Homo sapiens: one gene and its partners. The protein of the gene in region 1 purifies or fractionates together with the protein of each later gene. This does not show direct contact. Each region holds a gene or a part of one and is shown in the gene's direction. Other genes may lie near its edges. The genes, in order: MCOLN3, TMEM219, SLC12A9, KCNJ8, CLCN7, SCAP and ABCA3.

What was found.
Region 2: the proteins of MCOLN3 (region 1) and TMEM219 purify together in Homo sapiens (affinity purification with mass spectrometry; 3 studies listed by BioGRID and IntAct, with this or other methods). This does not show direct contact.
Region 3: the proteins of MCOLN3 (region 1) and SLC12A9 purify together in Homo sapiens (affinity purification with mass spectrometry; 3 studies listed by BioGRID and IntAct, with this or other methods). This does not show direct contact.
Region 4: the proteins of MCOLN3 (region 1) and KCNJ8 purify together in Homo sapiens (affinity purification with mass spectrometry; 3 studies listed by BioGRID and IntAct, with this or other methods). This does not show direct contact.
Region 5: the proteins of MCOLN3 (region 1) and CLCN7 purify together in Homo sapiens (affinity purification with mass spectrometry; 3 studies listed by BioGRID and IntAct, with this or other methods). This does not show direct contact.
Region 6: the proteins of MCOLN3 (region 1) and SCAP purify together in Homo sapiens (affinity purification with mass spectrometry; 3 studies listed by BioGRID and IntAct, with this or other methods). This does not show direct contact.
Region 7: the proteins of MCOLN3 (region 1) and ABCA3 purify together in Homo sapiens (affinity purification with mass spectrometry; 3 studies listed by BioGRID and IntAct, with this or other methods). This does not show direct contact.

Annotation. Positions count from the first base shown.
Region 1 is NC_000001.11:85,045,701-85,049,917, reverse strand, and holds the start of MCOLN3 (mucolipin-3), read left to right. Parts: upstream 1-1,417; 5' UTR 1,418-1,522; intron 1,523-1,652; exon of another isoform or gene 1,653-1,660; coding exon of another isoform or gene 1,661-1,730; intron 1,731-2,308; exon of another isoform or gene 2,309-2,343; intron 2,344-4,217. UniProt on the Homo sapiens protein: Nonselective cation channel probably playing a role in the regulation of membrane trafficking events. Acts as a Ca(2+)-permeable cation channel with inwardly rectifying activity.
Region 2 is NC_000016.10:29,965,079-29,968,578, forward strand, and holds part of TMEM219 (insulin-like growth factor-binding protein 3 receptor isoform 1 precursor), read left to right. Parts: intron 1-2,946; coding exon 2,947-3,176; intron 3,177-3,500. UniProt on the Homo sapiens protein: Cell death receptor specific for IGFBP3, may mediate caspase-8-dependent apoptosis upon ligand binding.
Region 3 is NC_000007.14:100,855,713-100,859,212, forward strand, and holds part of SLC12A9 (solute carrier family 12 member 9), read left to right. Parts: coding exon 1-125; intron 126-1,155; coding exon 1,156-1,464; intron 1,465-3,122; coding exon 3,123-3,230; intron 3,231-3,337; coding exon 3,338-3,449; intron 3,450-3,500. UniProt on the Homo sapiens protein: May be an inhibitor of SLC12A1. Seems to correspond to a subunit of a multimeric transport system and thus, additional subunits may be required for its function. May play a role in lysosomal ion flux and osmoregulation.
Region 4 is NC_000012.12:21,764,707-21,768,206, reverse strand, and holds the end of KCNJ8 (ATP-sensitive inward rectifier potassium channel 8), read left to right. Parts: intron 1-1,583; coding exon 1,584-2,484; 3' UTR 2,485-3,252; downstream 3,253-3,500. UniProt on the Homo sapiens protein: Inward rectifier potassium channels are characterized by a greater tendency to allow potassium to flow into the cell rather than out of it.
Region 5 is NC_000016.10:1,458,029-1,461,528, reverse strand, and holds part of CLCN7 (H(+)/Cl(-) exchange transporter 7), read left to right. Parts: intron 1-58; coding exon 59-124; intron 125-580; coding exon 581-713; intron 714-1,001; coding exon 1,002-1,111; intron 1,112-2,341; coding exon 2,342-2,422; intron 2,423-3,500. UniProt on the Homo sapiens protein: Slowly voltage-gated channel mediating the exchange of chloride ions against protons. Functions as antiporter and contributes to the acidification of the lysosome lumen and may be involved in maintaining lysosomal pH.
Region 6 is NC_000003.12:47,416,942-47,420,441, reverse strand, and holds part of SCAP (sterol regulatory element-binding protein cleavage-activating protein), read left to right. Parts: intron 1-737; coding exon 738-1,114; intron 1,115-1,598; coding exon 1,599-1,787; intron 1,788-1,919; coding exon 1,920-2,121; intron 2,122-2,192; coding exon 2,193-2,308; intron 2,309-2,615; coding exon 2,616-3,138; intron 3,139-3,234; coding exon 3,235-3,320; intron 3,321-3,500. UniProt on the Homo sapiens protein: Escort protein required for cholesterol as well as lipid homeostasis.
Region 7 is NC_000016.10:2,337,929-2,342,172, reverse strand, and holds the start of ABCA3 (phospholipid-transporting ATPase ABCA3), read left to right. Parts: upstream 1-1,444; 5' UTR 1,445-1,600; intron 1,601-4,244. UniProt on the Homo sapiens protein: Catalyzes the ATP-dependent transport of phospholipids such as phosphatidylcholine and phosphoglycerol from the cytoplasm into the lumen side of lamellar bodies, in turn participates in the lamellar bodies biogenesis and homeostasis of pulmonary surfactant.

The DNA of each region.
Region 1 (4,217 bases):
TCTGTAATGGAGCAGCCGGCAGGTTGAATAAAGGCTTGCCTGAACTTGGGTCTCGGTCTCTCTCGGTCTCTCTCTCCCTCTCTCTCTCTCTCTCTCGTCCTTTCTCTCGGCTAACTTCACAGATTGCACATAAAAAAGAAAAGGGGTTCAGAGAAGGTAAGTAACTCCCTAGAGACCAATAAGTGGCACAGAAGGGAATTTGGGCCCTCATCTGTCTGACTCCAAAACCTGGCTTTATCTATTCACCGGTCCTTATAACTCAGCTAAAACGAGGGTTAAGCAAGTGCCATCATTTATGACTGTGAACCTCTTCAAAGTTCAGATTGTTCCTGAACAATCAAGCATTTCAAACTCTTACCATCAAGTAAGGAGATAGCGTTACATCGTGTGTAGGCATATGGGGATTAAAGATTACATTATATTTTCCAAATTGCACTTGAGAATTGACTGTGCCAATTATATCCTTTCTGGGTATCTACCTTGTTCACAGTATGTGGGATCCAGGTTGAGGAACAGCATAAAATTCTTGTACCCTGTTGCAAAAATTTATTAGTAATCCATGCATACTGGTTTAGGATTTGAAAACAGGTTTTATAAAAGGTTTGCTAGGTATCGATCTAATTTCAGGAATACCCTAGTAGGGAAATTCAGTGACCTTTACAAATTTACCCGTGGCCAAAAAAAAAAAATAAGTAAAAATTAAAAATCAGAACACATCCAAAGTAATTATAATTAAAATTAACCAAAGTTCCTGATCCAATCCTGATAAGGGGTATTAGGTTTAATATTTACAGATAATTTATGAAGAAAAAGATTACGGTTCAAAGTCTACTTCAGGTATTTCTATTTACATTTCTTGGAAAAGTTTCCCAGGGCTCTTTCTGCCCCAGCCGCCAATCTACAGAAGAGTCTAGTCGACTGTCCACTCATTTCACAGCACTTGTCTGAAACTAGAAGACCCAGGGAGGGAACAAGGTTCAGGCTTGAAACGCTAAGACATTCAAGATTTCACCTTGTATGCAAAAATCAGAATGGGAGGCTGCAGCGGGGCCTCACACTCACCGGAGCTAGGCGCTATAGATCCCGCACCCGCGGAGCCCGGCAACCACCTGAGGGGCCTTGGCCAGGAGGGGGTGGCCCCCCGGCGCCGGCGGCAGCTCCGGAGCAAACCTGGCAAACCCGAGCAGGGCGGTGCGGGTTGCTCAGGGAGAAAATGAAGGGAGTGATAGGGTGGGGGTGGCAGGGAACGGGCACAACGCCGGCTTCCTCCGGACGGCCTCCTGCGTCCCACCTGTGCTCCTGAAAAGCGGCCCCCGACAGGGCGCGGCGGGAACCCGAGCCGGGAGTAGGGTCACGAGTTAAAGCGGCGGGGGCGGGAGGATGCGCGGGCGGCGGACGGGGCGCTCTCCTCCCGTCTGACTCTGGGCGGAGCGGGGCTCGAGGCTGCTGGAGTCGCTCGCTGACTCGCCCTGCGCCCTCGCCGCGGACACCGGAGCTGCGGCCGCTCCCCGCTGTCCCCCAGGTGAGCCCGCGGGGCGCTGCCCCGGGGCGTCGGGTGTCGCGGGAACGGCGCCCGCGGCGCACAGGGAGGGCCGGGGAGGCCGGGAGGCAGCGAGCTGTCGGGGACGCCGCGGGAAGGCCGGGCCGGGCAGTCGGCGCCATGGAGGGCAGGCGGGCTGGAGCTGGGCGCGAGATGCAGCTGTTCCGCGCCGCCCCCAAGCCGCCCGCAGGTCAGTGGAGGAGCGCGCCTGCCGGGCCTGCCCGGGGCTGGGCGGGTGGGGGTGCTCTGCTCCTCGGTCCCCCTCCAGGCCGCCGCCCACCTGTGGCCAGGGCTCAGAGGGCTGGAAGCCACCCCCGCCCGGAGCCCCTGGGCTGGAAGGCTTGGATGCCGGCCGGGGCTCCAGATGGCCTTGACGCGGCTCGGCTGGCCCCTTTCAAGGCGGACTGTCCCCCTGTTAGAGGTGGGGGCGGCTGGAAGTGGGGGCTCAGGCCCGGGTCGCTGCGCTGGCTGAAAGCAGCCGCCAGCCGGGCTGCGGCCGTCTGAGCTCCACGGCAGTGCCCGGGGATGGCAGCGACCGCTCTGGGACATCGCTGCAACCCTGCAGATCTTTCTCGCACACACTACCCAACAAAAGTGTCAACCCTTGTTGTTTGTTTGTTTGAAAAAAAAAGAAGACTGGAGAGACTAAAGTTTTGTGTCTGGTGAAGTGGGAAAGCGCTTCTGAAAAAACGAGGTTGCATAACTTTGTCGCCAACTGGGAGGCCTTTGCTATTTATACACTCCCGGGCTTTCTCCAATTTTCTACAGCTTACTCCAATCAAGCCTCTGCCCGCCAGGAACAGGTAACCTGTGTGTGTCCGTTTGCTCCTTCTAAGAGCATGCCTGATAGATACTTCGGTAGCCTCTCCGGATGGCCCCTTCGTCGGGTAGCCTCTCCTGATGGGGTCCTTCGCCCACCCTGCCTCCCGCGCCGGCGCTCCGGGTGAATGTCAAGGGTGGCTGGCTGCGAATACCTCCTTCAGCTGCTGGGGTTCCCGACAGTTTGCAGTTTTTAAAAGTGCACCCTCGGAAGGGCTTTTCAGACTGGGTAAACCTGACTTTTCCAAGGTCAGCATCTGGTCCTGGTGAATGAAATGTCTACCGGGACAACTCGTTGTGATGTGCTGAATATATGCTGGTTGGCTTGTTTTCTCTTTGTTCCTGTGGATTACTGTACATGGTGTGTGGCTAGTTTGTTTAAAATTTAATTTTCCCTGTATCAAAGTGGAAAGCGCTTAGTGTCAATATACAACTCACCAACATGCTTATTAACAGCTTCATCATTATGTTGGTGTTCATATGCGAGCTTTGGTCAACATGAAATCATCTGCGTTTTAAGTCCTATAGATAAAGTCTCCTTAAATGCTGGTTAAAATATCCTGCCTTTTTGAAGGAAGTAAAACTGTTAAGTGAAAATCCTAATTTATTAATAACTTTTTCTTTCCTTTATGCCTTTACCTAAGAATTACTGCATTTATGCTTTGACAGGCATTTTAACACGCACACAGGAGCCACACTTTAATGAGTTATATAATAATTATTTCATTTTGAAGGTACTGCATTTGCCATACAGTAAATATGTTTTATGGTTTATTCATCCAGCAGTATCCTTATTAATCTTTTCATTAACAAGAGTTTAAGAACCTTCCCCATGCTATTCTTTATAGCCAGTATCTATTGTTCGGAGATGTTGGGCTTCCTAAGAATGCTTGAATTGGAATCAAAAGTGGGGTTCTAGACTTGGAAAGCAGCATGGTATCTAACCAGTGACTTGTAAGATATTGTATGAATGCAGGTTACAATTTTCCTTCTTCATTGCTGAGTACAAGTTATTATTAAAATGTCAAATAAAGCCTGCCTTTCTATTCCGTATGGAAGGACGCTACTCATTGTTTGGGGTATTTTACTTTGAACAGGTTTCCATAGTATAATATCAATCTTAGTCTGAGGGAAAATCCAAGATCCATCCCAGTCTCTAGAGTGACTTCTCCGTCACTTTGAAAAAACTGATTCTGAAGACAATAAAACCAGCCCGACCCAACCCTTTTCAAACGTACCTGCCCCCCCCCCCAAATAGATATGAAGTACTTTGAAAATATGCTATAAATATAAGGCCTTCAATAAAAAGTCATTACAAGCGATGCCACAGACTGGGAATTAGGCTTAAATTGAGGGCCCATTTTCCCCTTTGTACAACAGTTATGTTTCCTGAGGCTCATACTGCCCCTTAAGAACCTTACTGGCTTTCTAGGAAGCCACCCTGTCTGCTGTGGGTGTTAGGTAGGTGAGTCTGCTTAGCGCTAGACCCTATGCAAAGGCTTTGTTTACTGTTTTATTTAATGCTCTCTACACTCATAACTATTTAATTCTGGCTACAATCATAGAAGGGTAGGTGTAGTTATTCCCATTTTGCTGGAGAGGAAACTGAGGCTCAGAAGGGCTAAGTGATTTCCCTGAGATTGCAGAAACGTCAAGTCATGGAACCAGGATTAGAAACCAAACTGAATCTTGTTCTTTACACTACACCCTGCTATCTTTAACTCGGTGGTTTTAAACATTTTTTGATAATCTGTGAAAGTTTTAGTTACCTCCCAGGAAAAAGTGTCCACAGCCACATATATGAAAGTTTTCATATAACTTCAAGGCCCACCTACCCTCTGAAGTCCTTCCCCCAGGT
Region 2 (3,500 bases), on another chromosome or scaffold:
AAGCGATAGGGAGAATGTGAAAATGTCAGTGGATGCCAATAATCCCTGTGTGACATTTGGCCTTATCTAAAATATGCTAAGATAAAGAGGGATGGAAGAGGGTGGTATTTTCTGACTTCTGAGGTCCTTTACAACACTATCATTCTAAGATTCTCCTGTGAGTATATATGTGTCGGGGGAGTGGGTCTCTGCATGTCCAGATGTACATGTATGTTAACAAAAATAAGGAATGTGTCCGATATATGCAGACTTGGGACAATTCTTTCCCATTCTTTTTACTTTTAAATAGATATATAATAGTTTTATTGAGATATGATTCATGTACCATACAATTCACCCATTGAAAGTGTACAGTTAGGGCCGGATGTGGTGGCTCATGCCTGTAATCCCAGCACTTTGGGAGGCCAAGGCAGGCAGATTGCTTGAGCGCAGGTGTTCGAGACCAGCCTGGACAAAATGGCAAGACTCTGTCTCTACTAAAAATACAAAAAAAAAAAAAAAAAAAAGCCAGGCGTGGTGGTGCACACCTGTGGTCCCAGCTACTTGGGAGGCTAAGGTGGGAGGATTGCTTATCCCTGGGAGGCAGGGCTTGCAGTAAACATTCTCCTGCCTCAGCCTCCTGAGTAGCTGGGATTACAGGTGCTCGCCATCACGCTCACCTAATTCCCGCCCCCCAGCCCAAGGAGTCTTGCTCTGTCACCCAGACTGGAGGGCAGTGATGCGATCTCAGCTCACTGAACCTCTGCCTCCCAGTTTCAGGAGATTCTCCTGCCTCAGTCTCCCAAGTAGCTGGGATTACAGGCATGTGGCACCATGCCCAGCTAATTTTTGTATTTTTAGTAGAGATGGGGTTTCACCATGTTGGCCAGGCTGGTCTTGAACTCCTGACCTCATGATCCGCCCGCCTTGGCCTCCCAAAGTGCTGGGATTACAGGTGTGAGCCACTGCGCCTGGCCAATTTTTGTATTTTTTATAGAGATGTGGTCTCACTATGTTGCCCAGGCTAGTTTCAAACTACTGGGCTCAAGTGATCCTCCTGCCTCACCTCCCAAAGTGCTGGGATTACAGGCATGAGCTACCGGGTCTGGCGTATTACCCAATTGTTTTATTTACTTTCTCTTGATTGCTAGTAAGGTTGAGCCTCTTATGGTTTATTGTCTGTATTCATGTTGCCTGTGAATTACCTGTTTGTTTCCTTTGTTCCTTTTTCTTTTAAGTTATTTGTCTTTTTCTTCTTGATTTGTAGGTCTTTATTCTAGATAGTAAACCTTTTGTCATTTAAATATATTATAGGTATTTTCAATATGTTACTTGTTTTTTTAACTTATCTTTCATTGCATAGAAGTCTTTAATTTTTATGAGGTTAGGTTTATCACTCTTGTCCTTTATTAAAACTTTTAGGTTTTGTGTCTTTCATAGGAAGCCCTTCCTCATTTTAAAATTAGAAAATATTCTGGCCAGGCGTGGTGGCTCATTCCTATAATCCCAGCCTTTGGAAGGCTGAGGCAGGTGGATCACCTGAGGTCAGGAGTTCAAGACTGGCCTGGCCAACATGATGAAACCCCGTCTCTACTAAAAATACAAAAAATTAGCCAGGCATGGTCGTGGGCACCTGTAATCCCAGCTACTCACAAGGCTGAGGCAGGAGAATTGCTTAAACCTAGGAGGTGGAGGTTGCAGTGAGCTGAGATTGCACCACTGCACTCCAGCCTGGGCAACAAGAGTGAAACTCTGTCTCAAAAATAATAAAATAAAATAAAATAAAATAAAATATTCTGTATTTTCTTTAAATACTTAAGTTTTTTTTTAGTTTGTATAGTTCTTTAATACATCTGAACTTTATTTTATAAGATAACAGTTTGACGCTATGTTTTTTTCTACATGGAAATTTTCCCAAGGCCATTTACTGAGGCCATCCTTTCCCCACTAATTTAAAATAGGGTGAGAACCTTTTAATGGATTTTGGTACCAAGTGAGAAACTGCTTTCTTAAAAAGAATGAACTAGTTTATGCAAACTGACATGGGCAATGTGTATCTGCCCATTTCACTGCAGCCTTGCGAGTATTAGTATGGTTGTTGTATTGATTGTAATTTAAGTTAATTTAAATTACAACTTAATTTGTGTTTATATTGATACAAAGTTATTTTCATTTCTCAGTGATATAAATAATGGTATATGGAATACTTTATTGAATAGAATCAATGCCAAAACACCTGGTATTATAGAAAGCCTTAAAAAATGACTAGGGGCAGGCGTGGTGGTTCATGCCTGGAATCCCAACATTTTGGGAGGTCAGGGTAGCAGGATGGCTTGAGCCCAGGAGTTTGAGTCCAGCCCGGGCAATACAGTGATACCCTGTCTCTACAAAAAAATTTTTTTAAATTAGCCAGGTAGGTGGCACACACTTGTAGCCCTGCCTACTCAGGAGACTGAGGTGGGAGGATCACTTGAGCCTAGGAGGTTGAGGCTCCCGTGAGCTGGGATCGTGCCACTGCACTCCAACCTGCACGACAAAGTGAGACCCCATCTCAAAAAAATAAAGAAAGAAAGAAAATACAAGAAAAGGGCCGGGCACGGTGGCTCACGCCTGTAATCCCAGCACTTTGGGAGGCCAAGGCGGGCGGATCACGAGGTCAGGAGATCAAGACCATCCTGGCTACCACAGTGAAACCCCGTCTCTACTAAAAATACAAAAAATTAGCTGGGCCTGGTGGTGGGCACCTGTAGTCCCAGCTACTCGGGAGACTGAGGCAGGAGAATGGTGTGAACCCGGGAGGCGGAGCTTGCAGTGAGCCGAGATTGCGCCACTGCACTCCAGCCTGGGTGATAGAGCGAGACTCCGCCTCAAAAAAAAAAAAAGAAAATACAAGAAAAGAAGCGTGAAGACAGAGGCTCCCGCGTCACCTCTCATTTTCTTCCATTTTCTCTTCTGTGCCTTTCACAGGATCTTCTGCAGGACAACTGGTCCTTATCACAGCCAGGGTGACCACAGAAAGGACTGCAGGAACCTGCCTATATTTTAGTGCTGTTCCAGGAATCCTACCCTCCAGCCAGCCACCCATATCCTGCTCAGAGGAGGGGGCTGGAAATGCCACCCTGAGCCCTAGAATGGGTGAGGAATGTGTTAGTGTCTGGAGCCATGAAGGCCTTGTGCTGACCAAGCTGCTCACCTCGGTAAGAGCCTCAGATGGGTCGCCAGGGTTTTGTAGACTGCCTGCTGACTACTGTATCTTGAAGGTCCCTGGAAACAATTCTACCTTGTAGAAAAAGCACAGGTTTTATAACCCTGCCTTGGGGGCTGTGTGACGTAGAACAAGTGTCTAAACATCTCTGAGTGTCAGCATCCTCATCTGTAAAACAGAAAACATGACCCTATCTCTTAATTCCATCAAATAAGGATTAAATGAGAATGACCGTGAAGTGCCCAGCACATTGCCTGGGACATAGAGATTTGATAAGTGACAGCTATTGTTGTTTACTATTGTCTTTAAAACATTC
Region 3 (3,500 bases), on another chromosome or scaffold:
CAGCCGCACACTGGGGCCCGAGGTCGGGGGCAGCATTGGGCTCATGTTCTACCTGGCTAACGTCTGTGGCTGTGCCGTCTCCCTCCTGGGGCTGGTGGAGTCTGTGCTTGATGTCTTCGGGGCCGGTCTGTGCTCTGTCCGATCTGGGCAGTGCTGCGGGTTTACAGGGTCTGGGAGTGTGGGATCATGAGGGAGAAGGTCCTCTCCAGCAGAGGGGCAGACTGAGCCATTACCTTGGCTTTCTGGAGCTTCTGCTGTGTGGCCAGCATCGTGCAGGAGATATGGACATCCCTGAGATTGTCCTTGCCTGCAGGGAGCTAACCATCTAATCGGAGAGACCAGGCTAAGATTCTTAAAACTGACAGAGACCACCAGGGAGAGCTAAGATGCTAGGATGGAGCTAAGAGGGAAGTGGGGAAGGTGGACTCTCTGATAGCAGGTGGGCAGAGGAGGGCTTGTCTTGCTTTGGGTCACAGTTGGGGCTGGGTCCCTTCTTATTTATTTATTTATTTTGAGATGGAGTCTTGCTTTGTTGCCCAGGCTGGAGTACAGTGGTGTGATCTCCGCTCACTGCAACCTTTGCCTCCCGGGTTCAAGCAATTCTCCTGCCTTAGCCTCTTGAGTAGCTGGGATTACAGGCACTCACCACCACGCCTGGCTAATGTTTGTATTTTTAGTAGAGACGGGGTTTCACCATGTTGGCCAGGCTGGTCTTGAACTCCTGACCTCAAGTGATCCACCTGCCTCAGCTTCCCAAAGTGTTGGGATTACAGGCGTGAGCCCCGGCGCCCTGCCCCTTCTTCTTTTTTTTTTTTTTCTTGAGAGAAGGTCTCACTCTGTCACCAAGGCTGGAGTGCAGTGGTACCATCTCGGCTCAATGCAACTTCTGCCTCCCGGGCTCATGCGATTCTCCCACCTCAGCCTCCCAGTAGCTGGACTACAGGCATGCCTCCCCACACCTGGCTAATTTTGCAGTTTTTGTGGAGCTGGGGTTTCACAATGTTGCCCAGGTTAGTTTTAAACTCCTGGACTCAAGCAATCCTCCCACCTCGGCCTCCCAAAGTGCTGGAATTATAGATGTGAGCCGCCCACCATGCCCGGCTGGTGGGGTGCCTTAGGATCGGGCCTTCTAACTCTGTCCCTACCTCTCTCCAGATGCCACAGGGCCCAGTGGGCTCCGGGTCCTGCCCCAGGGCTACGGCTGGAACCTGCTGTATGGCTCCCTGCTGCTGGGCCTTGTGGGTGGGGTCTGCACCCTGGGAGCCGGCCTCTATGCCCGGGCCTCATTCCTCACATTCCTGCTGGTCTCTGGCTCCCTGGCCTCTGTGCTCATCAGTTTTGTGGCTGTGGGGCCGAGGGACATCCGCTTGACTCCTAGGCCTGGCCCCAATGGCTCCTCCCTGCCGCCCCGGTTTGGCCACTTCACCGGCTTCAACAGCAGTACCCTGAAGGACAACTTGGGCGGTGAGCTGGGTGCTGCCGTGGCAGGGATCTCGGGGTGAGGGGTGGGCAGACGTCGGGCCGGGCCCGTAAAACCTCTGGATGAGCACAGGTGTCAGAGGGAATGGAGGGCAGGAGGTCTGGACTGCAGAGCAGTGCAATTTAATTCAAGCCTGTCTAGCGTGTGCTTGGCCGGCAGGGCAGGAGGAAGCCCACAAAACAGTCCCTGCTTTAGAGGAACTTGTGTTCTAGCTGAGGAGAGACATGCATTCAGGAATCAGTTAAATAGCACAGAATGGCCCAGCATGACTTAAACAGATCAGGATCACCCAGGAGTGGAGAGAAGGGAGGCCTGACTATGGGCTGGGGAGGGCAGGAGCCGGGGAGCTGGAGGTGGCCTGAGATAGACAGGTGGGGGATTCAGCCAGGAGCTGGGAGCAGAGAGGGAAGGCATCTCAGGAAAGAGCTTGAGACCAGGTGCGGTGGCTCACGCCTGTAATCCCAGCATTCTGGGAGGCCGAGGCAGGAGGATCACCTGAGGTCAGGAGTTTGAGACCAGTCTGGCCAACATGGTGAAACCCTCTCCCCGTCTCTACTAAAAACACGAAAATTAGCTGGGCACGCTGGCTTGCACCTGTAGTGCCAGACACTCGGGAAGCTGAGGGAGAACTGATTGAACCCGGGAGGAGGAGCCGAGATTGTGCCATTCAGTGAGCCGAGATTGCACCATTGCACTCCAGCCTGGGAGACAGTGAGGTTCCCTCTCCAAAAAACAAACAAACAAAAAAAACACCATAAAATAAAAATACAAAAATTAGCCAGGGGTGGTGGTGCGCACCTGTAGTCCCAGCTACTCAGGAGGCTGAGGCATGAGAATCTCTTGAACCCGGGAGGCAGAGGCTGCAGTGAGCTAAGATCGCCACCACTGCCCTCCAGCCTGGGCTTCAGAACGAGACTCCGTCTCAAAAAAATAAATAGGCTGGGTGCGGTGGCTCCCGCCTGTAATCCCAGGACTTTCGGAGGTCGAGGCGGGTGGATCACCTGAGTCCAGGAGTTCGAGATCAGCCTGGCCAACATGGTGAAACCCCATCTCTACTAAAAATACAAAAATTAGCCAGGCGTGGTGGCGGGCACCTGTAATCCCAGCTACCTGAGAGGCTGAGACAGGGGAATTGCTTGAACCTGGGAGGCAGAAGTTGCAGTGAGCCGAGATCGCACCACTGCACTCTCGCCTGGGTGACACAGCGAGACTCCATCTCAAAATAAATAAATAAATAAAATTAAAAAGTTAGATGGGCATGGTGGTGCACACCTGTAGTCCCAGCTACTTGGCAGACTGAGGCAGGAGGATCGCTCTAGCCCAGGAGGTAGAGGTTGCAGTGAGCTACGATGGTGCCACTGCACTCCAGCCTGGATGACAGAGCCAGACCCTGTCTCTAAAAAATAAATAAATAAATAAAAGAGCGTGGATTAGGGTCTGGAGGGAGGAATATCGGAGCACTGGGGGGACGTGGCAATGTGTCTGGCTGACCCAGGGCCAGTGCAGGAACAGGCTGGGGTCTTAGTGAGGGCAGTGCAGGGGAGGCAAGAGGACCGTGGGAATGTGTGGAGAGGGTGGCTAAGAGGCCTGGATCCCTGAGACGGATGCTGATGCACTCTCCTCCCTGGGAGGATCCTCCTAGCTGGCTATGCTGAGGACTACACCACGGGAGCCGTGATGAATTTTGCCAGCGTCTTTGCTGTCCTCTTTAACGGCTGTACAGGCATCATGGCTGGGGCCAACATGTCAGGTGAGAGTCCCTGCCTGCTGCCTCCTGGGGGTTTGGGGCTGCCACCGTGAGGGACCCAGGGGGATGGCTGGAGGGCTGACCTCACTCCCTCTGCTCCCCCTCTCCAGGGGAGCTGAAGGACCCCAGCCGGGCGATCCCTCTGGGCACGATCGTCGCCGTCGCCTACACCTTCTTCGTCTATGTCCTGCTTTTCTTTCTCTCCAGCTTCACTTGTGACAGGTGTCTGGGGAGGGATGGGGGTGGAGTGTCGAACAAGATTGGTGCACCTGG
Region 4 (3,500 bases), on another chromosome or scaffold:
TGTCACATCAGTGGGGGCATTAGATTCTCATAGGAGTGTGAACCCTACGGTGAACTGCGAAGGTGAGGGATCTAGGCTGCGGGCTCCTTGTAAGAATCTAATTCCTGATGATCTGAGGTGGAACAGTTTCATCTCGAAACCATTTCCCCCCACACACACCCCCCAGTATTGTCTTCTACAAAACCAGTCCCTGTTGCCAAAAAGGCTGGGGACTGCTGCCCTAAACAATTACAATAATGACATCAAATATCACTAATCACACATCATGGTAACTGATGTAATAATAATGAAAAAGTTTGAAATTTTGTGAGAATTACCAAAATGTGACACACAGACACAAAGTGAGCACGTTTTGAAAAAATTGTGATAATAGACTGGCTGGATGAAGGTTGCCACAGACCTTCAATTTATAAAAATGCAGTATCTGCAAAATACATTACAGCAGAGAAGAATAAAATAAGGCATATCTGTATGTGACCTTGACACAGTCATTTACTAGTTTCTGCCCCTAGTTCTCCCTTTAATCATTTCAGTATTCTCCAGAACACCTAGAGTAGTGCTCCCCAACCTTTTTGGAGCCAGGGACTGGTTTTGCGGAACGCCAATTTTTCCACTGATGGGGGTGGGGGATGGGGATGGTGTGGGGATAAAACTGTCCCACCTCAGATCATGAGGCATTAGATTCTCATAAGGAGGGATAACCTATATCTCCCACATGTGCAATTCACAATAAGGTTCACTATACCATGAGAATCCAGTGCCTCCACTAACCTGACTGGAGGCAGAGCTCTGGCGGTAATGCTGGCTTACCCACTACTCACCTCCTGCTGTGTGGCCTAGTTCCTGACAAGCCATGGACCAGCACTGGTCCCTGGCCTGGAGGTGGGGGGGGGGGGGGTTGGGGACCCCTGACTTAACAAAATTAGATCATCAATAAGACACTTTTCTTTCCAAATGGAAAACAACTCCCTTCTATTAAAAATACTAGTTGTTTGGAATAATGTGTTTTATACTAGTTTTTTTAGCACTGTGCTATTTCTATATGAGACACAAAATAAGTATTAGCTAATGAATATGATTTTAAAGATTATAAATAATAAATTCACTCAGTACTCAGTACCTTCCATATGACTCAAGTCTCCTAAACATAGATACGCAATAAATAATAAACATCTACCTGGTAGAAAGTTTTACAAAGTAAACTGTGCCTTTGTGAAAGTGAAGTATTTCGCAAGGTAAAATATGCATATATATGAAAATATATTAATCTTTTACACAAATTAGGCCCATCACTATGTGACCTATGAAACATTAATAGAATGTTAATAGAATTAGGCCTTAGCTTAAGGGAACTTAATTAATAGAATGTTAATCTCCAGAAGTCTGGAGGTAGATGCATGCAAGAGAGAGAGAGACTGTTCTAAACACAGTTTAGAATTAGGCATTTTACAAGTTTAAGTTGGCTAGTCTTTCTGCAAGCATTTAATAGTCTTTGGTGGAAGAAAATGAAAAGCTCAGCTTGGCATATTTCATTATTCAAAATGTGACCTGATGGTGTTCTTTTCTGATATCATTCCTCACAGGTCTTTCACTTCTGCTTTTCTCTTCTCCATTGAAGTTCAAGTTACCATTGGGTTTGGAGGGAGGATGATGACAGAGGAATGCCCTTTGGCCATCACGGTTTTGATTCTCCAGAATATTGTGGGTTTGATCATCAATGCAGTCATGTTAGGCTGCATTTTCATGAAAACAGCTCAGGCTCACAGAAGGGCAGAAACTTTGATTTTCAGCCGCCATGCTGTGATTGCCGTCCGAAATGGCAAGCTGTGCTTCATGTTCCGAGTGGGTGACCTGAGGAAAAGCATGATCATTAGTGCCTCTGTGCGCATCCAGGTGGTCAAGAAAACAACTACACCTGAAGGGGAGGTGGTTCCTATTCACCAACTGGACATTCCTGTTGATAACCCAATCGAGAGCAATAACATTTTTCTGGTGGCCCCTTTGATCATCTGCCACGTGATTGACAAGCGCAGTCCCCTGTATGACATCTCAGCAACTGACCTGGCCAACCAAGACTTGGAGGTCATAGTTATTCTGGAAGGAGTGGTTGAAACTACTGGCATCACCACACAAGCACGAACCTCCTACATTGCTGAGGAGATCCAATGGGGCCACCGCTTTGTGTCCATTGTGACTGAGGAAGAAGGAGTGTATTCTGTGGATTACTCCAAATTTGGCAACACTGTTAAAGTAGCTGCTCCACGGTGCAGTGCCCGAGAGCTGGATGAGAAACCTTCCATCCTTATTCAGACCCTCCAAAAGAGTGAACTGTCTCATCAAAATTCTCTGAGGAAGCGCAACTCCATGAGAAGAAACAATTCCATGAGGAGGAACAATTCTATCCGAAGGAACAATTCTTCCCTCATGGTACCAAAGGTGCAATTTATGACTCCAGAAGGAAATCAAAACACATCGGAATCATGACAGCAAGATAACCCCAAGACAGTCTTTTATCAAGTTTTGACGGTTTATGCTGGGCACTGCCAGACTGAACCAGAGCTGGAACACAATAATGTGTCCTTCTACATTTTATTACACTAAATGATATTCATATTCAAGCAACAGCACTTTCTGTAGTAATAAAAAGTAACACACCAAGTGGAGGATTCATGGCTTATGCTTGTTTCATACATGTAGAATTCGCAGTGATATACTTAAGTTATGTGCAGGGGTGGGTATGCTCGTTTCTCTCAATTTGAAACACAAGAATTACACTAATAGTAACAGGCCTTGAGCACAAAATTTGGTCAAGAAATGAGTCTGTTTGAAATGCTTAGTTGGTGAAACCCAGATCGCTGTGTTACTAATGATCACTCTGGAAATGCAAATAGAATAGGAGGGGAAAAAACAAAATCATGTTAATGCGTTTTGTACATCAGCCTTCTCCTGTCTCCATGATAACTGCATTTGGTAGGAAGCCTGAGGCAAAAACTGCTTAAGTGGATCTGTTTGTAAGTGGATTCAGTTCATTCGCTTTGTCTGTCGGTGACTCCTGAAGGTTTCCTGGTCCATCTCATTGCGGCCTGTTGGGCAGAGCTGGACAAGGTGTCTTTGAAGGAAAGCTAAGTCTTGTCTCATTTAGGACTGGGTTCCCCACAGTGACAGTCACTTCCTTCAGCATCTCACTTCTTCTTCTAGAATCCCCACAGGGAAATACTGTATTGAATATTTTATTAAAACATTTTCTTTGTACTCACTGTAGTTTTGTGATTCCTCTTTCACAAAATCATCCCAAGTTAAAACTCAAGATGTTTTTAGAGCCATGTAAAAGAGATGTCAAAGTGATAACACTCACTCTGAGATTCCTCTCTCTCAAGTCTGTTTGCTCCAAAACTAGCTTTTTTTTGCTTTGTTTTGATTTTATTTCAGGTTTTAAAATGTCCTCTTGGTTTTTCAATCTAAGCCTGACATACCATAAAAATCCTATAAGCTTTTTTTTT
Region 5 (3,500 bases), on another chromosome or scaffold:
CCCGCACCCAGAGCGTGGGTTCGGTGCTGAGTGCTGCCCTTGCTGTCCCGGCCTGCAGAGCTTGGACTATGACAACAGTGAGAACCAGCTGTTCCTGGAGGAGGAGCGGCGGATCAATCACACGGTGAGCTGGACGCCGCTCCCTGCAGGGCCCCACGGTGCGGGGCCTGGTGCCGGCCGGGCCTGGGGCTGCTCTTCTGCCGGGGTGAGGTGACGCACCTCCTCCCTCCTCCTCTGACTCCGCCTCTGAGGCCTGTGGTTCGTCTGGTTTCTAGAGACAGTGGGAGGGTCACGGTCACCGTAACCAAGAAGGCTGCTCTTACGGCCGCCAGATGCGGTGCCCAGCATAACAACCGCTGGCTGTGAAGTTGTTGGGAATTCACCCACCTCCCCGAGTCACCCTCGGGCCCCGGGTGCGCCTCAGATGTTGGCCAGAAACTGTCCTTTGTGGGACTCAGCGCACCGTGCACACTGGGCCCTTCATAATCCCGGGGCCTGCAGGCGGTCTGGGCGGTCCTGCTGCTGCCAGAGTGACTGCGCCAGGGCCCTGCCTGACCCTCGCCCTGACCGCGCCCTGCAGGCCTTCCGGACGGTGGAGATCAAGCGCTGGGTCATCTGCGCCCTCATTGGGATCCTCACGGGCCTCGTGGCCTGCTTCATTGACATCGTGGTGGAAAACCTGGCTGGCCTCAAGTACAGGGTCATCAAGGGCAGTATCCTTCCCAGTGCGGCCGCTGCAGCTTGGGAGGGGGGCGTGGCCTGGGCCGAGTCCCGGGCAGAAGTCCTGAGCCCAGCGTGTTCCAGTGCAGGTGGAGGCGGCCCGGCCAGGCTGGCTGTGTCCCTGTCATGGTTGGGCCGTGAGACGTCTCTGGGATGTCCAGTGAACATCATGGCTCCACCCAGCAGGGTGGCATCTGCCAGGCTGGTCTGTGGGGCAGGGCTGAGGTCTGGGCTGGGTGGTCATGACGGGGAAGCAGCCAGCCCTCCTTGATGAGCCCCAGATATCGACAAGTTCACAGAGAAGGGCGGACTGTCCTTCTCCCTGTTGCTGTGGGCCACGCTGAACGCCGCCTTCGTGCTCGTGGGCTCTGTGATTGTGGCTTTCATAGAGGTGGGTGGCAGGATGCCGCAGCTATGGCGGACCCCATGAAGGATTGGGGGTCTTGGTGAATGGGCGGGAACCCCTGCAGCTCACCCACCCCCACCATCACATTGGCTGACAACCCGGGCACTTTTAGAATCACGTGGTCCAGACTCACAACCTCAGGAGGAGCAGACACACCAGGGCCTCTTCACCCCCAGAGCCCTGGGGTGCTGCTCCTGACCTACCAGCACAGGCCTGGGCACCCTCACCCCACTCCGCCCCTCCTTCCATCTCCTCACTCTGCCCTCCCCTCCTTCCATCTCCACCTCCGCCTCCACCACGTCCTTGATCTGTGTCTGGGCTGGGAAGAGTGAGAGCAGCTACCCCAACGACATGAGACCCTTCCCTGGGGCCCCAACGTGTGTGCTGCTCTTCCCTTCCCTGAGGCCCCGACGTGTGTGCTGAGCTCCCCTTCCCTGGGGCCCCGAAGTGTGTGCTGCTCTCCCCTTCCCTGAGGCCCCGACGTGTGTGCTGCTCTCCCCTTCCCTGAGGCCCCGACATGTGTGCTGAGCTCCCCTTCCCTGGGGCCCCGACGTGTGTGCTGAGCTCCCCTTCCCTGAGGCCCCGACGTGTGTGCCGCTCTCCCCTTCCCTGGGGCCCCGAAGTGTGTGCTGAGCTCCCCTTCCCTGGGGCCCCGAAGTGTGTGCTGAGCTCCCCTTCCCTGAGGCCCCGACATGTGTGCTGAGCTCCCCTTCCCTGAGGCCCCGACGTGTGTGCCGCTCTCCCCTTCCCTGGGGCCCCGAAGTGTGTGCTGAGCTCCCCTTCCCTGGGGCCCCGAAGTGTGTGCTGAGCTCCCCTTCCCTGAGGCCCCGACATGTGTGCTGCTCTCCCCTTCCCTGGGGCCCCGAAGTGTGTGCTGAGCTCCCCTTCCCTGAGGCCCCGACATGTGTGCTGCTCTCCCCTTCCCTGAGGCCCCGACGCGTGTGCTGCTCTCCCCTTCCCTGATGCCCCGACGTGTGTGCTGAGCTCCCCTTCCCTGGGGCCCCGACGTGTGCGCTGCTCTCCCCTTCCCTGGGGCCCTGACGTGTGTGCTGCTCTTCCCTTCCCTGGGGCCCCGACGTTTGTGTGCTGAGCTCCCCTTCCCTGAGGCCCCGACGTGTCTGCTGCTCTCCTCAGCTCCTGGGGCTCCTGGGGCTGAGGGGCTGCATCTGTCTCAGCCTGGCCGTGACCCACTCAGCCGTGCTTCCCCTCTTTCAGCCGGTGGCTGCTGGCAGCGGAATCCCCCAGATCAAGTGCTTCCTCAACGGGGTGAAGATCCCCCACGTGGTGCGGCTCAAGGTGAGGGTGCGGTGGCCCTGGCTGGGCAGGGTGGGCGCCCGCTCTTTGCTGGTTCAGGAGCAGCTCTCTTGGCTGCCTGCCTTCCAGAACTGGCCTCAGCCACCCTGTGTACTGGTGGCACTGTGTGCAGATGGGCTGGCTGGGTGTGAAGGGGTCACCTTTTTTTCTGAAAGTGGTAACAACTGGTATTTGCACATATTAAATTACGTAAGAAATGAGTAGTCATACAGAAATGCTTGCGTGGTGCATGTGTGACACAGCTGTGCGACGCGTCTGTGACTGTGGGCTGCGTGGTGGTGACTGATTCACCGTGGAAGCTGTCGTGGTAGTGGGCGTGTAGCAGTTTCCCGCTTTCAGTTTGCCTCATGGTCATTTACACTTGGTGTTATCAGAGCATCTGGTTCTGGAGGTGCTGGGAGTCCTGACCCAGTTCCGCTGTGGTTGCTTCTGTCTGTGCCGCCATCGTTCCTTAGCCTGAGACTTGCCGCAGCCCCGTCCCGTCTGAGGATGGGTGGGCAGCATGGCCGCTGCCCCCTGGGGGTGCTTCCGGGGCCTGGTCCCCGTGGCCAAGGAGCGGGACCAGTGTGTCCCCTCTGGCGAAAGCTCCCAGGTGACCTTGGGGTGCCCCTGCCCTGTGGTGGGAGATCAGGTTTACTGGAGCAGCTGGGAATGGCGACCCGCCTGTCACCCGCGCCAGGCTGGCCTGAACCTTCTTGGATGTTGCTCTATAACTTTTGTTGGCTGAGGGTTGAGTTTGCTCGGCATCTTTAACATACAGTCCTCCCCCACACACTCAGCGCCCTTGTGTTTAGGGTCTGCGCCCTTGTGGGTTCTGCCCTGGGGCAGGGAGGCTGATAAACACCTTACACACCTTCTCAGGTGGAGAGGATGAGGCCCCTGGGGGCGGGGAGCAGCCGAAGGGAGAGGGGGCATCGTGGAGCCGCAGGTGACCAGCCTTCCAGTGCCAGGGGTGTATGAGGAGCCTTGCTAGGCGGGGCTAGCGGGAACACCTCCCCTGTGCTGGCCACGCTGGCGGAGGCAGGTGTGCCTGTAGGATGCGGTGGGCGGCCCAGCTTTG
Region 6 (3,500 bases), on another chromosome or scaffold:
GGCCCCTGGAAGCCTGGCTCTGGGGAGTTGCCCGTTGTGTCCTCCCTGCCCAGACCCTAGTGGCTTCTGAGGAGATAAGCCTGTGGGAGAAGCAGCTCCAGGGTTCTCAGGTACAGGAGCCATCCTCTCCCCAGAGTGGCCCAGGACAGGAGCCTGTTAGTTGAGTGCTCTGGGATGGACCCACTTGTGGCCACCACATTGCCCTGGGTCGGGTTCATCGGCCGCTGCATGGTGTGCAGACACTGGAAAGTGCTGGGCAAAATCATTCACCAGCCGGGCTGGGCTGGCCTTGGGGCAGCAGTGCCTCTTCCAGGGAGCTGAACTGAGATGGGAGGAAGGCTGAGGCCCCCTGGGACTAGGACCTCTGGGGGACTCTGGAGCAGGTCAGGTTGCTGGCCCTCTGACCGTAGGAATGGTAGCAGCTTTCTGGCTCCAGCTGAGGTGGAGCTTAGGGGTGGGGACATTCTGTGTCAAACCTCAGGGTGCTTCAGTGTATTTCCAGGCCAAGAAACTCAGCCCCTAACTGTGGAAAGGCAAGCAGGCCCCTCCAGCAGCAAGTGTTGGCAGGTGTTAGCAGGAGGACTTGGAGAGGCAGGAGAAAAGGACGCAGTGGGGCCTGTGTCCTCTCTCCATCCCCAGGCCTGAGGTCCCTGTGCTGCTTCCTCTCAGCATGAGGGCTGAAGCTGCTGGGGGTTGGGGCCCATTCCTCCCACTGAGTACCCCCTGCCCCACTGCAGGCTGGCACCGTTGTCTGGATTGGCATCCTGGTATACACAGACCCAGCAGGGCTGCGCAACTACCTCGCTGCCCAGGTGACGGAACAGAGCCCATTGGGTGAGGGAGCCCTGGCTCCCATGCCCGTGCCTAGTGGCATGCTGCCCCCCAGCCACCCGGACCCTGCCTTCTCCATCTTCCCACCTGATGCCCCTAAGCTACCTGAGAACCAGACGTCGCCAGGCGAGTCACCTGAGCGTGGAGGTCCAGCAGAGGTTGTCCATGACAGCCCAGTCCCAGAGGTAACCTGGGGGCCTGAGGATGAGGAACTTTGGAGGAAATTGTCCTTCCGCCACTGGCCGACGCTCTTCAGCTATTACAACATCACACTGGCCAAGAGGTGAGCTGGGCCGTGCCAGGTGCCACCTCACTCGATGGTGTCAACTCACCATCCCCTTTCCCCAATGCAGGAGGCCCACAGGTTTGAATTATGCAAATAATTAAAACAGTTCATAAGGTTGTGAGGTGGGAACTGGTGGTTTAGGCAGCTATAACCCAAGAGAGGAGTCCCAGGTTGCTCTGAGGAGTCACTGGTGGCTGCCAGCCCTCACCAGAATGAGACCCACCCACCTGTGCCAGGAGTGGGGAGGGAGATACCCCACACGGCCACCAGGGCTGTTTGGGTGCTGGTATCTGGGACAGCAAGTTGGCTGCTAAGCTGGGCTGGGGAGGGACCTACCTCTGTCCCCAACCCCCCATGCTGGGAGAGTCTGGCCGGTGGAGCTGAGGCCTGCCTGGGGAGGAGGGAGAGGACTGGCTGGCGAGCACAGCAGGAGGAAGCCCTGGGAGGCCCCCCGCTGAGGCTGCCCACTGTCCGAATCCAGGTACATCAGCCTGCTGCCCGTCATCCCAGTCACGCTCCGCCTGAACCCGAGGGAGGCTCTGGAGGGCCGGCACCCTCAGGACGGCCGCAGTGCCTGGCCCCCACCGGGGCCCATACCTGCTGGGCACTGGGAAGCAGGACCCAAGGGCCCAGGTGGGGTGCAGGCCCATGGAGACGTCACGCTGTACAAGTAAGGCTGCTGGGTGGGGTGGGGTGGGAAAGAGTGCGGGGAGGGGGACGGGTAGGCAAGAGTAGGGGAGAGGGAGGAGGGGAGGGGACAGGCTGTGAGGTGTGTCTCACAGCAGTCCGCCCTCCCGTGCAGGGTGGCGGCGCTGGGCCTGGCCACCGGCATCGTCTTGGTGCTGCTGCTGCTCTGCCTCTACCGCGTGCTATGCCCGCGCAACTACGGGCAGCTGGGTGGTGGGCCCGGGCGGCGGAGGCGCGGGGAGCTGCCCTGCGACGACTACGGCTATGCGCCACCCGAGACGGAGATCGTGCCGCTTGTGCTGCGCGGCCACCTCATGGTGAGCAGGGGCACAGTGGCCGGGTAGGGGAGGGCCGGAGCCTGGCCCATACCAACACCGGGCTTCTGCAGGACATCGAGTGCCTGGCCAGCGACGGCATGCTGCTGGTGAGCTGCTGCCTGGCAGGCCACGTCTGCGTGTGGGACGCGCAGACCGGGGATTGCCTAACGCGCATTCCGCGCCCAGGGTAGGTGCGGCTGCCCTTTCCTCCTTTGTGCCCCCACAACCCCCCTCACCCCACCCCCCGCCGCCACGTATCTCCCCTCCTTTCTTCCTCCGAGGTATCCCCCAACCCCTCCAGGCCCCCTCTCCCCCCACCCCCGCACCCCCTCCCACCACCCCGTACCCCCCTCTCCCCACCCCGCACCACCCTCTCCCCCCACCCCCTTTTCCCTTGCCCCTTCTCACTCCCACGCCCCCTCTCACCCCCGTCCCCCGCCCCCTCTCACCCCCCTCCCCCGTGCCCCCTCTCACTCCGCCCTCCTGGCCCCCAGCAGGCAGCGCCGGGACAGTGGCGTGGGCAGCGGGCTTGAGGCTCAGGAGAGCTGGGAACGACTTTCAGATGGTGGGAAGGCTGGTCCAGAGGAGCCTGGGGACAGCCCTCCCCTGAGACACCGCCCCCGGGGCCCTCCGCCGCCTTCCCTCTTCGGGGACCAGCCTGACCTCACCTGCTTAATTGACACCAACTTTTCAGCGCAGCCTCGGTCCTCACAGCCCACTCAGCCCGAGCCCCGGCACCGGGCGGTCTGTGGCCGCTCTCGGGACTCCCCAGGCTATGACTTCAGCTGCCTGGTGCAGCGGGTGTACCAGGAGGAGGGGCTGGCGGCCGTCTGCACACCAGCCCTGCGCCCACCCTCGCCTGGGCCGGTGCTGTCCCAGGCCCCTGAGGACGAGGGTGGCTCCCCCGAGAAAGGCTCCCCTTCCCTCGCCTGGGCCCCCAGTGCCGAGGGTTCCATCTGGAGCTTGGAGCTGCAGGGCAACCTCATCGTGGTGGGGCGGAGCAGCGGCCGGCTGGAGGTGGGCAGAGGGGCTAAAGGTGGGCAGAGCGGCTGTCCGCCCCGGGGATTGTGGGCCTTTCTGGCTGGCAGGTGCTCACAGCCTCTGGACTCGTAGGTGTGGGACGCCATTGAAGGGGTGCTGTGCTGCAGCAGCGAGGAGGTCTCCTCAGGCATTACCGCTCTGGTGTTCTTGGACAAAAGGTGAGCGTGGCCTGCCTCAGCCCCAGATGTCCCCAGCCTTTGTTGGCTAGGCCATACTCTCTTGAGTCTTGAGTTCTGGTTCTCTTCAACTGCTGTACTGTATGATTCGATTGACCTTCTTGGTGCCCAGCTCCACACCTGTGAGCAGAGGGCAGTCCACTTGGATGGGAAGGTAACAAT
Region 7 (4,244 bases), on another chromosome or scaffold:
GGGGGTGGGCGATTTCCGCCCCCGGCCCGGGGCGTTGCATTAGGTCGGGGCCGTCGGGTCGTGGTGCCGGCGGCTGGCTGGGCGCGGGGCTGGCGGTGCGGGTCGCAGGCGGCTCCCAGCGGCAGGACCGGCAGCAGCCCTCCCTCACCCGGGGCGCCGGGACCACGGACGCACCTCACTGTGGTCCGGCCGCTGGCGGCGCTCGGGGACCCATTGGCCCCGGCCCGCGGCAACTGTCGGCCCCGCGCGGCGCCCGCCCTCATGCTGGAGCCCGGGAGTCCCTCACTCCACCTCTCCCTGCCACGCCAAGGGGGCCCGCCCCTCCCAGGCTCTCCTGCCTGGGGCGACCCAGTCCCACGACCCGGTCCGGCCCAGGGACACCCCGACCCACCTCCCCACTCCCGTCCCGTTAGACCGCGACCCGTCCCTGGGACCGCCTAATGTGACACGCCCGGGACCCTCCCTGCAGGCGACTCCCTGCAGGGCCCCCGCCCTGGACACTCCCTCCAGGTGACCCCGTTCCGCTCGCTCCGTGAGGTGACCCCGACCCTCTCCGGACCACCTCCTCAGGTGACCCCGACCCTCTCCGGACCCTCCCCGACCCTCCCCTCAGGTGAACCCGACCCTCCCCGGACCATCCCGTCGGGTGACCCCAACCATCCCCGAACCCCCCCACCCTCCCCTCAGGTGACCCCGACCCTCTCTGGACCCTCCTCACAGGCGGCCCCGCCCCACCCCGGGACCCTCCCGCCAGGTGACCCCGACAAGGCCGGGCCCTCCTGCCTGAGGTGACTCCTACCCGGCTGGGGACCCCCGAGGCCTCCCTCGCTCCTTAAGTGAGGGCGACTCCGCTCATCCCGGGACACCGCGCCTTCTCCTGTAAACTCGACGCCTGCCCCGACGGCCGAATTCCAGAAGGTTCCTCGCCGCCGCCTCGCCTTCGGTCGCGCCCCAGCGCCCGGCCAGAGGCGGGGAAGCCCTTCCCCCGGTGCCAGGAGTGACGAGGGCCCAAGGAAAGACAGTGCGTGAGGAGAAATGGAGAAACGGCCAAAGTCGAGTTTCCGGGTGTGAAGACTTCCACTGCTGCGAAACGCACGTGCGCAGAGTCATTCCTGTCAGAGGCCACCGCGCCCTCGCTCGGCTACCGCCGCTGCGCGCCCCCTGCTGGACATAGGCGCGGGCACAGAGCAGTGCGCAAGCACGGGCTGCCGCGCGGCCGGGTGCGAACCGCGTACTCGCAGGGTGGCTGACTGCGCACGCGCAAGTCAGAGCGCCCTCTGCCGGGCATGGGCGACATGCAGGGGGCACCGCGCAGGCGCGGGGTTGGGCTGGCCGGAGCGGCCGAGGCGGCCGGGGGTGGACCGGGCACCTGCAGGGGCGGCCGACTGCGCACGCGCCATCCGCGGCGCCCCCTGCAGGAGCCGGAGCGGCCGCTGCGTCCGCCAGTAGCGGGTTGCAGGCGCACCCTCCCCTCCAGGGCGGCCACGCAGCTGTCAGTGCCGCCGCCACTGCGAGGCTGGAGCGGAGCCCGGGTGGCCGAGGGAGGGGACCCCGCGAGAGGGCCGCGCGCCGGCCGCCGCCGCCCCGGCGCCCAGGCTCGGTGAGTGCCGCCGGGACCCGCCGCTCGCGCGCTCGTTCCCGGGGCTTGCGGTCCCCACCCGGGTCCGCCCTTCCCACCCTCGCCGGCCAGCTCGGGCCTCGGGCCCCCCCCAGCTCCGGCCTGGCCTGCGGGCCCCTCCCGCGACCCCGCATCCCCTCCGGCCGCGCCCGCGCCCGCCCCTCCTGCCGCGGCCTCGGCTCCGGGCGCTCCCTGCAGGTGCCGCTCCCTCAGCGTCGGCTCCCATCCGAGCCTTGGGCGTGTCCCGCACTGCGGGCAGTGCCTGAGCCCGCGCCGCGCGGGGAAGCTCGACCCTGCGGAGACTCGGCACGGCCCGGGCCCTCTGTGTGCGCCCAGAAGGTGGATATGTAGCGACCGACAGCCCCGGCCCCGAGGGATGCAGGCGTCCGCCGCGCACTTGCGGAGATGGCGCCGCTTTCCGGCCGCAGGGATGCCGGGCGCGCGGTGGCAAAGCCGCCCGGGTTGGATTCCGCCTGCTCCCACCCTCTGGTTCCGAGGAGCCTCCAAATCCGAATCCAAGGCCCACGGTCCGCGGCGGGCGTTTGCTGCGCCCTCCACTGTGTGGGAACGGGAAAGGGGAGCCGCTAGTCCAGGCGGAGGGGCTTGTGGCAGTCGCCGGAGGCCGCGTTCTCGGCGCCCTCGGTCAGGACGCCTGTGTGCATCGCGTCCGTGTGTCTTGGCTCTGTTCCAAGCCGGCTCCACGCTTCAGAAGGGCCGGGACGGCCTTATGGTCAGGGGCGTGGGGAAGGCGCTTGGTGTCTGTCGCACAGATGAAGCCATGTCCTCAGGGGGTAATTGCCGCTTGTTCTCCGGGTTACGTCCTGGACTGTGCACTCCGGGAAGGCGTCGATTGGATCTTGTTGGGGTTTGTGTTCCTGGAACTCCAGAAATGCCCGCTGAGTGAGTAGCCGAGACCCCGCGACAGCATGGAGCCCAGGCAGGGAGCACGTGGGAGAGGTTCACTCTTCTCCTGGGCATCCCGTCATTTTATTCAGATAGTCTGGGCGCTGCCTTTTGTAAACTTGAAAAGACTAAGACTGTTTTAGAAAGTTTGCCTCATGAGAAATGTAAGAGAAAGGGAAAAATAGATAAAAATGGATGTCATGGGAATCTCCCCCACACTTTCATTTTTAACTTCTTAGATAATTTTTCTTTTAAATTGAACCTTTGCTAACTCTACCTGAAAAACAGGACGACGTCTCTCCCTTCCTAAAGTGACTTACCACCATTCTGACCAGACAGGCTTTTGGAACAGGAGAGGGTAGCACGAGTTGTTTCTAAAAAGATGTTAGCCTTCCATCTGCATGAGCCAGGCAGTCTCATGGGAGCCCATTTTGACGTAGTCTCAACTGGGAAGGCCCAGGTAAGATCCCTAGTTTGCCATTTCTTCCCCAGCCCTGCTTCCGGAGACTGTGGAATCTATTGAGGGGAAGCATTCTGGAACTTTGGGGACGGCTCTGACGGGGAAGGCCTTGTGCACAATGGAAAGATGAATTGGAAGCCGGGCTAAGTGGCTCACACCTGTAATCCCAGCACTTTGGGAGGCAGAGGCGGGCGGATCACTTGAGTTCAGGAGTTCGAGACCAGCCTGGCCAACATGGCGAAACCTCATCTTTACCAAAAATATAAAAAATTAGCCGGGCATGGTGGCACGTGCCTGTAATCCCAGCTACTCAGGAGGCTGAGGCAGAAGAATCGCTTGAACATATTAGGTGGAGGTTACAGTGAGCTGAGATGGCACCACTGCCCTCCAGCCTGGGCGACAGAGCAAGACTCTGTCTCAAAAAAAAAAAAAAAAAAAAAGATGAATTGGACACAGTCCCTGCTCTTGGAGGGGTCTTAGGATAGAGCTAAAGAGATGCTTTATTCACAAGTAACTGTGACATAAGACAGAACAAGATGAGTACCACATGACACATCCAGAAAAGGTGCAACAGGTGACCAGAGGTGGAGGAGAGTTGGCTCCAAGAAGAGCAGAGGGTCTCCACCCAGGCTTCCCGTTACAATCACCTGGGAAGCCAGCCTGGGCCCAAAACAGCCCAGAATCTCCAGGGGTGGGCCTCAGATGTCAGTTTCTGTCTTAAAGTGCCCTGGAAAATTCCATTGTGCAGGCAGCCAAGACAAAGAGCCCCTGAAACAAGCTTCACAGAGGCCATGGTACTAGAAGTGGGCTGGGAAGTGATGGGTAGGTAGAGAAAGGTATCCGGGTGATATTCTAGGCAGACAAAACACTGAAGGCCCACATCTTGTGGGGAAGAGTGAGGCATGTCAGGCCCTGTCCTGGGAGAGTTTTGCAGACCCCATTCCCCTGAATGGCTCAGAGTGTTTGTGGTGTTGGAGAGGTTTGGAGTCAACAGGCAGACAGGTGCCTTTGCGGGAGCCGTGTAACGAGGTCCTTGCTAACTTGCTTGTTGGAGAACATCCATGGTTACCTCCCTCTGGGGACTTTCCATTGCCTCATTACCTCGTTTCCTGCACCTAGGGAGGCAGAACAGCTAGCTGGCTGGAGAACGGGACTGAAGCCACGGCAAGGGTTAGGGAAACAGGCAGTAGCAGAGATTTTGTGGAAGTCTGTCCCGATAGCTCCCTTTGGAACCACGTCTCTGGCTTAAAAATACACCCTATG